Homo sapiens: one gene and its partner. Changing the gene in region 2 together with the main gene of any one other region gives a genetic interaction. Each region holds a gene or a part of one and is shown on either strand. Other genes may lie near its edges.

The links.
Region 1: changes in SUV39H2 (region 2) and EHMT1 together harm fitness more than expected from each alone (negative genetic interaction), as found in Homo sapiens cells (one large-scale study listed by BioGRID).

Annotation. Positions count from the first base shown.
Region 1 is NC_000009.12:137,831,850-137,834,315, reverse strand, and holds part of EHMT1 (histone-lysine N-methyltransferase EHMT1), read right to left. Parts: intron 1-2,466. UniProt on the Homo sapiens protein: Histone methyltransferase that specifically mono- and dimethylates 'Lys-9' of histone H3 (H3K9me1 and H3K9me2, respectively) in euchromatin.
Region 2 is NC_000010.11:14,895,711-14,899,365, reverse strand, and holds part of SUV39H2 (histone-lysine N-methyltransferase SUV39H2), read right to left. Parts: intron 2,521-3,655; coding exon 1,849-2,520; exon of another isoform or gene 117-1,848; coding exon of another isoform or gene 54-116; intron 1-53. UniProt on the Homo sapiens protein: Histone methyltransferase that specifically trimethylates 'Lys-9' of histone H3 using monomethylated H3 'Lys-9' as substrate.

The DNA of each region.
Region 1 (2,466 bases), on a different chromosome or scaffold from region 2:
AGCAAGGCCCCGACACGCCGGCCTCGCCGGGTACGGCCATGCATGGCAGTCCCGGAGCCTGCAGTTGGGCGCAGGCCCGCCATGCAGGAGGGGCCTTCTCCAGTGACCTGTGGCGGCGGTGCGGAGCCTCCGCCAGCCTTCTCCTCGCTGTGTGGCCACCCACCCCGCACCCTGCCGTCCTCGCTGGGCCTCCGTCTGTGGTGGGGTGGGGGTGGTGCGGGCCGTTCCCTTGACGGCGTCCCCATGGGGCTTCCAGCGCGGTGGAATGTGGACAGCGCCATCCCACCCGAGGACCCATGGGGCTGTCTGGCACCAATAGGAGAAAGGAGGCCGGGGCTGCAAGAGCCCCGTGAGGCAGTGGCAGGGGCTGAGGGGGTCGGGAGGGATGGAGCTGGCATCCGGGACACACTGTCTTGGTGACGAGGAGGCGGAGCAGTCCCCAGAGGGTCTGGGAAGACTCAGTGGCGAATGGCACCAGGGAGGACCGTCAGGCGGAGGCTGCCCACAGAAAACGACTTCTGCTGCAGCCCTTCCGGGTGCTGATGTGACTGTGGAACACGAGGCCGAAGAGACTGAGGCGTCCTCCTCACCCTGGTGCCTTGGAGAGGAGCCCAGGATTCCGGGTGGCCACATGGCCCTGGGCCCTGGCCCCTGGCACTGGCCTGTGATGATGGATTCTGAATTGACCATAGAGAGGGGGACGAGGTGGGTGGGCCTGACCTAACCACGCAACCCCTTTAAAAGCAATTCTCTCTGGAGACCCAGGGCTTGGAGCTGCTGGGGCCTGGATGGAGGAGCTGCGTGGGAGTAAGGTAGGTGGTCCCGGCCGGCAGCTAGCAAGGAACCTAGACGCTGCCCACGCAACCACAGGGACCTGGGCTCAGCAGCACCCTGCCTGTGCAGCCCGAGGCCCGGCACGCCCAACCCCTGCTGCGCACACTGGGCCGAGTGGGTGGCCGCCATGGCGAGCTGCGGGTGGGTGGCGTGGTTTGTTACCCAGCGACGGGAAGAGGCAACACCACAGACGACAGCCAGGCAGACGGGGAAGGAGGCACCTGGGGCTTTCCAGGACCGAGTTCCGAGAGGGCGGGGCCTGCCGGCAGAGACACCTGGTCCACAACCTGCCCCAGCATGAACATTAACCAGAGAGCCAGGGACGCTCAGAGGTCAAGAGGTTAAAACCCAAACCAACAAGCGGGTAAAGGCGTGGACGAGAGCAGCTCTCCGTCAACCTTCACGGCGCGGGCAGTGACAAGACAGTAAACCAGGCGAGCACGGCCGCAGGACAGGACCAGCCACAGCCCCCAAAGCCAAAGGCGCGGGAAGCTGCCTCCTGGTTTACCCCAAAGAAACAGAGTTCAGAGTGGCTCACCTGGCGTGGACTTTGGCCTCTGCTTCGGGGTCTGATGGACTAAGAATCTATAGGCGACCCCTCCTCGTGCAGAATGCAATTCCGGAACTAGCAACGGCGCACACACGAAGGTCTTGATAAGCAGCAAAATGGAGAGTGAGGGGCTTCCGACTGGAGGGGCCAGGCCCAGCTTTCACCAGGGGCAGCTCGTCTGGCAGAGCACACAGCGCTGCTCCGAGCTTCTAAGATGGGTGGGGTGTCAAAGTCTGTGACACAAATCTCTGCCCGACCAGAACCAGATAAAGACAACAGTCCAGAGAAGGACGGCTGGAGTAAGGCAGATAGGCAACGTGGGAGGCGGGGCCTGCGGAGAGAGCCCAGCCAATCCTAGGACTGGAGAGAAGGCACAGGGGCCACATGGGTGGGTGGGGGGAGGGCCTGCGGAGGGAGCCCAGCCAATCCTAGGACTGGAGCGAGGTGCAGAGGCCGCGTGGGAGGCGGGGCCTGAGGGAGACCAGCCAATCCTAGGATGGGAGCAAAGTGCAGTGGCCACGTGGGAGGCGGGGCCTGTGGAGGGAGCCCAGCCAATTCTAGGACGGGAGCGAGGTGCAGAGGCCACGTGGAAGGCGGGGCCTGTGGAGGGAGCCCAGCCAATTCTAGGACGGGAGCGAGGTGCAGAGGCCACGTGGGAAGCGGGGCCTGAGGAGGGAGCCCAGCCAATCCTAGGACTGGAATGAAGGCACACAGGCCATGTAGGAGGTGGGGCCTGTGGAGGGAGCCTGGCCAATCCTAGGACTGGAGGGAAGGCACAGGGGCCACGTGGGGTTGGGGGGTTCTGCGGAGGGAGCCCAGCCAATCCTAGGACTGGGGCGAAGTGCAGCGGCCACGTAGGAGGCGGAGCCTGTGGAGGGAGCCCAGCCAATCCTAGGACTGGGGCGAAGTGCAGCGGCCACGTAGGAGGCGGAGCCTGTGGAGGGAGCCCAGCCAATCCTAGGACTGGGGCGAAGTGCAGCAGCCACGTAGGAGGCGGAGCCTGTGGAGGGAGCCCAGCCAATCCTAGGACTGAGGCGAAAGCACAGGGACCACTAGAGAGGCCGGGCCTGCAGAAGGGGCCC
Region 2 (3,655 bases):
AGGGGAAGAAAAATGATAATGCAAAAGACTGATGACCTTTTTTTTTTAAACAGGGTCTCACTCTGTCACTCAGGCTAGAATGCGGTGGTGCCATCATGACTCCCTGTATCCTTTAACTCCTGGGATCAAGCGATCTTCCTGCCTCAGCCTCCTGACTAGCTGGATCACAGGTGCATACCGCCATGCCCAGCTAATGATTTAGTTTTTATAGAGATGTGGGGTCTCACTATGTTGCCCACACTGGTCTGGAACTCCTGGGCTCAAGTGAGCCTCCAGCCTTGACCTCCCCAAGTGCTGGGATTAACTGTAACTGGTTGATTTATGACTTTTTAAACAGGATTTGAGCAGTACATTGGAACACTGCATTACTTTCATTATAATTAGGATGTTCAAAAAGCTATACAACTATAGCTCTCTACAGGACACAACTGAATGTTAAGGACTAAATCTGCAAGTATATGCTCTAAATATGATCCAGGCACATTTTTCCTATAACTTATATATATGCAGTTACAAATGGAAAATTGTTAAAAATACAGGGGAGAAGCTATGTTAACTTTGGAATGGAAGGTTTTGTTTTTGTAGAATATGTTATTTTCATGCAATTCTGTAAGTCTAAGATCGTCATCTACAGTTCTGCTCTTAAGAACACAAGTTTTATGACACGCTCGGCTTAAGAAACCAAAAGTGTCTAAAGTACTTTATGTTACCAACCAAATTTGGCTGCTGCACTCATTAAGAATGCAACTTAAAAAATTTTGGTTAACAAAAAGAGTAATTTGATTATACAAGATCTTGTATACTGAATAATTTATAATAATCTACCACTGTCTAAAAGTGTAAGAATCAAAACAGCCATCTAATTTAGTTTCAGAATTATAGATGAATACAGATAATTATAGGTGACCCAATTCCAACTAAAAAATCCAGAGTTGACAACTCCAGATATGTAGCCATGCTTGTGTCTTTCTAGTCACAGCTCAACCTACCCTTCAGTTTGAAGCAGTGTGGTGCCATGGTGAAGACTACTGATTTTAGAGCTTTGAATCTCGGTTCTTATTACTATGTGACCTGTGTGACCTTGGGCAAGGTACTCAATTTCTCTACAATAATGGACATAACAGTACTACTTCTCAAAAAAAAAAAAAAAAAAAAAAAAAAAAGAAACAGTACTACCTCACTGAGTTTTGGAGAGGATTAGTGAATTAATACATCAAGTGCTTAGAATAGTATGTGACACACGGCAAATACTTTTTACATTTATATATATATATACATATATATGATTTGTATACAAATAAATTTGCTAGTATTTGTATGGTAGTTTTGAGAATGGTCTTCACAGTTCAAAAGTAAGTTACAGATTATGGATGCAATAAATGCTTGTGTATATTTTACAAAACTCATAAATATAGTATCTTTCATGTTGATCCAAAATAGAGTTCTGCCAACTACATTTAATCATATTTGGTCAAATAGATGAAGTAAATTAAAACTTTCAAGTTTCAAAGCAGCATGTGTTACATCTGAGTTTCTTCTTAGGACTTTTGGGTAAAAACAGTTGTCATATTTTAAATTTTACAAATCCTAGGTTTGACTAGTAGGAATGTGTATTTGTTGAAAGATGACTATATCAATTTGTTTTAACGTATATTTTTTATTCATATAAAAGTTTTTTATTTCTAAATATGCCAGTGAACTCTTCTCCTAAATCTGAATAAATTTCTACATATCTGCAAATGAAAATATCAAAATGTACCAAGTATCTCTTAAAGAGATAAAAAGGTAATTTTCCAAAAGTATAAACCTTGCATGTCCATCATTTACTACGTGGCAAATGAAACATACCTCTCCAACATATTCCATGACAAAACTCATTCTTTTAATCTTCACAAGGGTCTTTACACCCCAGCCACGTCCATTGCTAGTTCGAAAGATGCAAAGCGAATACTGTGTGCCTTTTTGTACAATCCTATTGGGACAATCAGGACCACACTGACACCTTGAGTTGCATTCATAGATGGGAGTACCAGGTGGGATTTTAATTTGTTGGTTTTTATTATAAGCCAAAAGAACTCCAGCTTCAGCAGGACAACATTTTTGAAAGAAGCAATCTGTGCATGAACAACCAAAGGTAGCTTCATTGACTAAGCTGATTCCAGGAGCTGGTTTGTATTCGTTAATGTAATAGAAGTCTGAAGGTGGGCCCTCTAAATCAACAGTATTTTCAACAAATATCATTCCTTTATGATTCTTTCTTCTGTTGAGTTCATCTTGCCATCTCTGCAGAGCTATCCTTTGTTTAGCCTTCTTCACAATGTACTCAGCAATGGCAGGTTTCAAAGTTTTGTTATTGTCTTTTGGAGTTATTGCTTTGCCTTTCTTTACCTGAGATAAATAATTATGCTTGTCATTAGAGAATTGCTGAAGCAGTAACGGGCACTTCAGATTTTGCAAAGGTTCCCAAGTATTTGTAGAATCTGGCCATCCTTTCCATTTTACAAGATAATATTCCATATCCTTAAAATACAAAAGAAAATAAAATGCAAATCAGACGGCTATTTCCCAGTTTTACCAAAAATAATTAAAAATCTTAAAGAGTAAGGTATCCAATACCATTTTTCTTACTAACAGTTCAGAACATGTAGTCACAGGTTCCTAACACATGAAGTATAAATCATACAAATAAAACTATTTTTCCTTATATTACATAAAATATGGAATTTAGATGTGGCATAACATGTTTGATAAGAGGCTAAAGAGTTTTACCTGGAAAAAGACAAAGGTACTGAAACTGATGACTATGTTACTAAATGGTGATTCAGGTTAAACCCAGATGTATTTATTTTGATCATGGAAATAAATGGTCCCAAAGCTAACTCTTTATGACCTAGGTTAGTGGCTTACTTGGCCAGCAATAGATTCAGGCATTCTTAACGTCCATAACTTAATATCAAACACCAGACACAAGGGAACTCATTTCTCAACATCATGGGCACACATTCTCTAGATGTTCTAGAGATGAACTATCCAATACGGTTATTACGAGCCACATACAGCTACTGAAAACTTGAAATGTGGCCAATCTGAATTGAGATATGCTTAAAATATAATACACACTGAGGCTGGGCACGGTGGCTCATGCCTGTAATCCCAGCATTTTGGGAGGCCAAGGTGGGTGGATCGCTTGAGCCCAGGAGTTCGAGACCAGCCTGGGCAACATGGGAAAACCCCATCTTTACTAAAAACACAAAAATTAGCTGGGTGTGGTGGTGCACGCCTGTAATGCCAGTACTAGGGAGGGTGAGGCATGAGAATCGCTTGAAACTGGGAGGCAGAGGTTGCAGTGAGCCAAGATTGCACCACTGCACTCCAGCGTGGGCGACAGAGTGCGAGACTCAGTCTCAAACAAACAAAACAAACAAACAAAAAAAAAAGCAAAAAAAAAAAACCCACACTGAATTTTGAAGACTTTGTATCATACAAAAAAAAGAACACTAAGTAACTTAAAACTATTACAGGTTGAAATAATATTTTGGATATATTGGATCAAATACATTCTTGAAAGCAATTTCAGCTGTTTCTTTTTACTTTGTTCAATGTGGTTAGTAGATGTTGAATGGCATCTGCAGCTTGCATTACATTTCTATTGGAC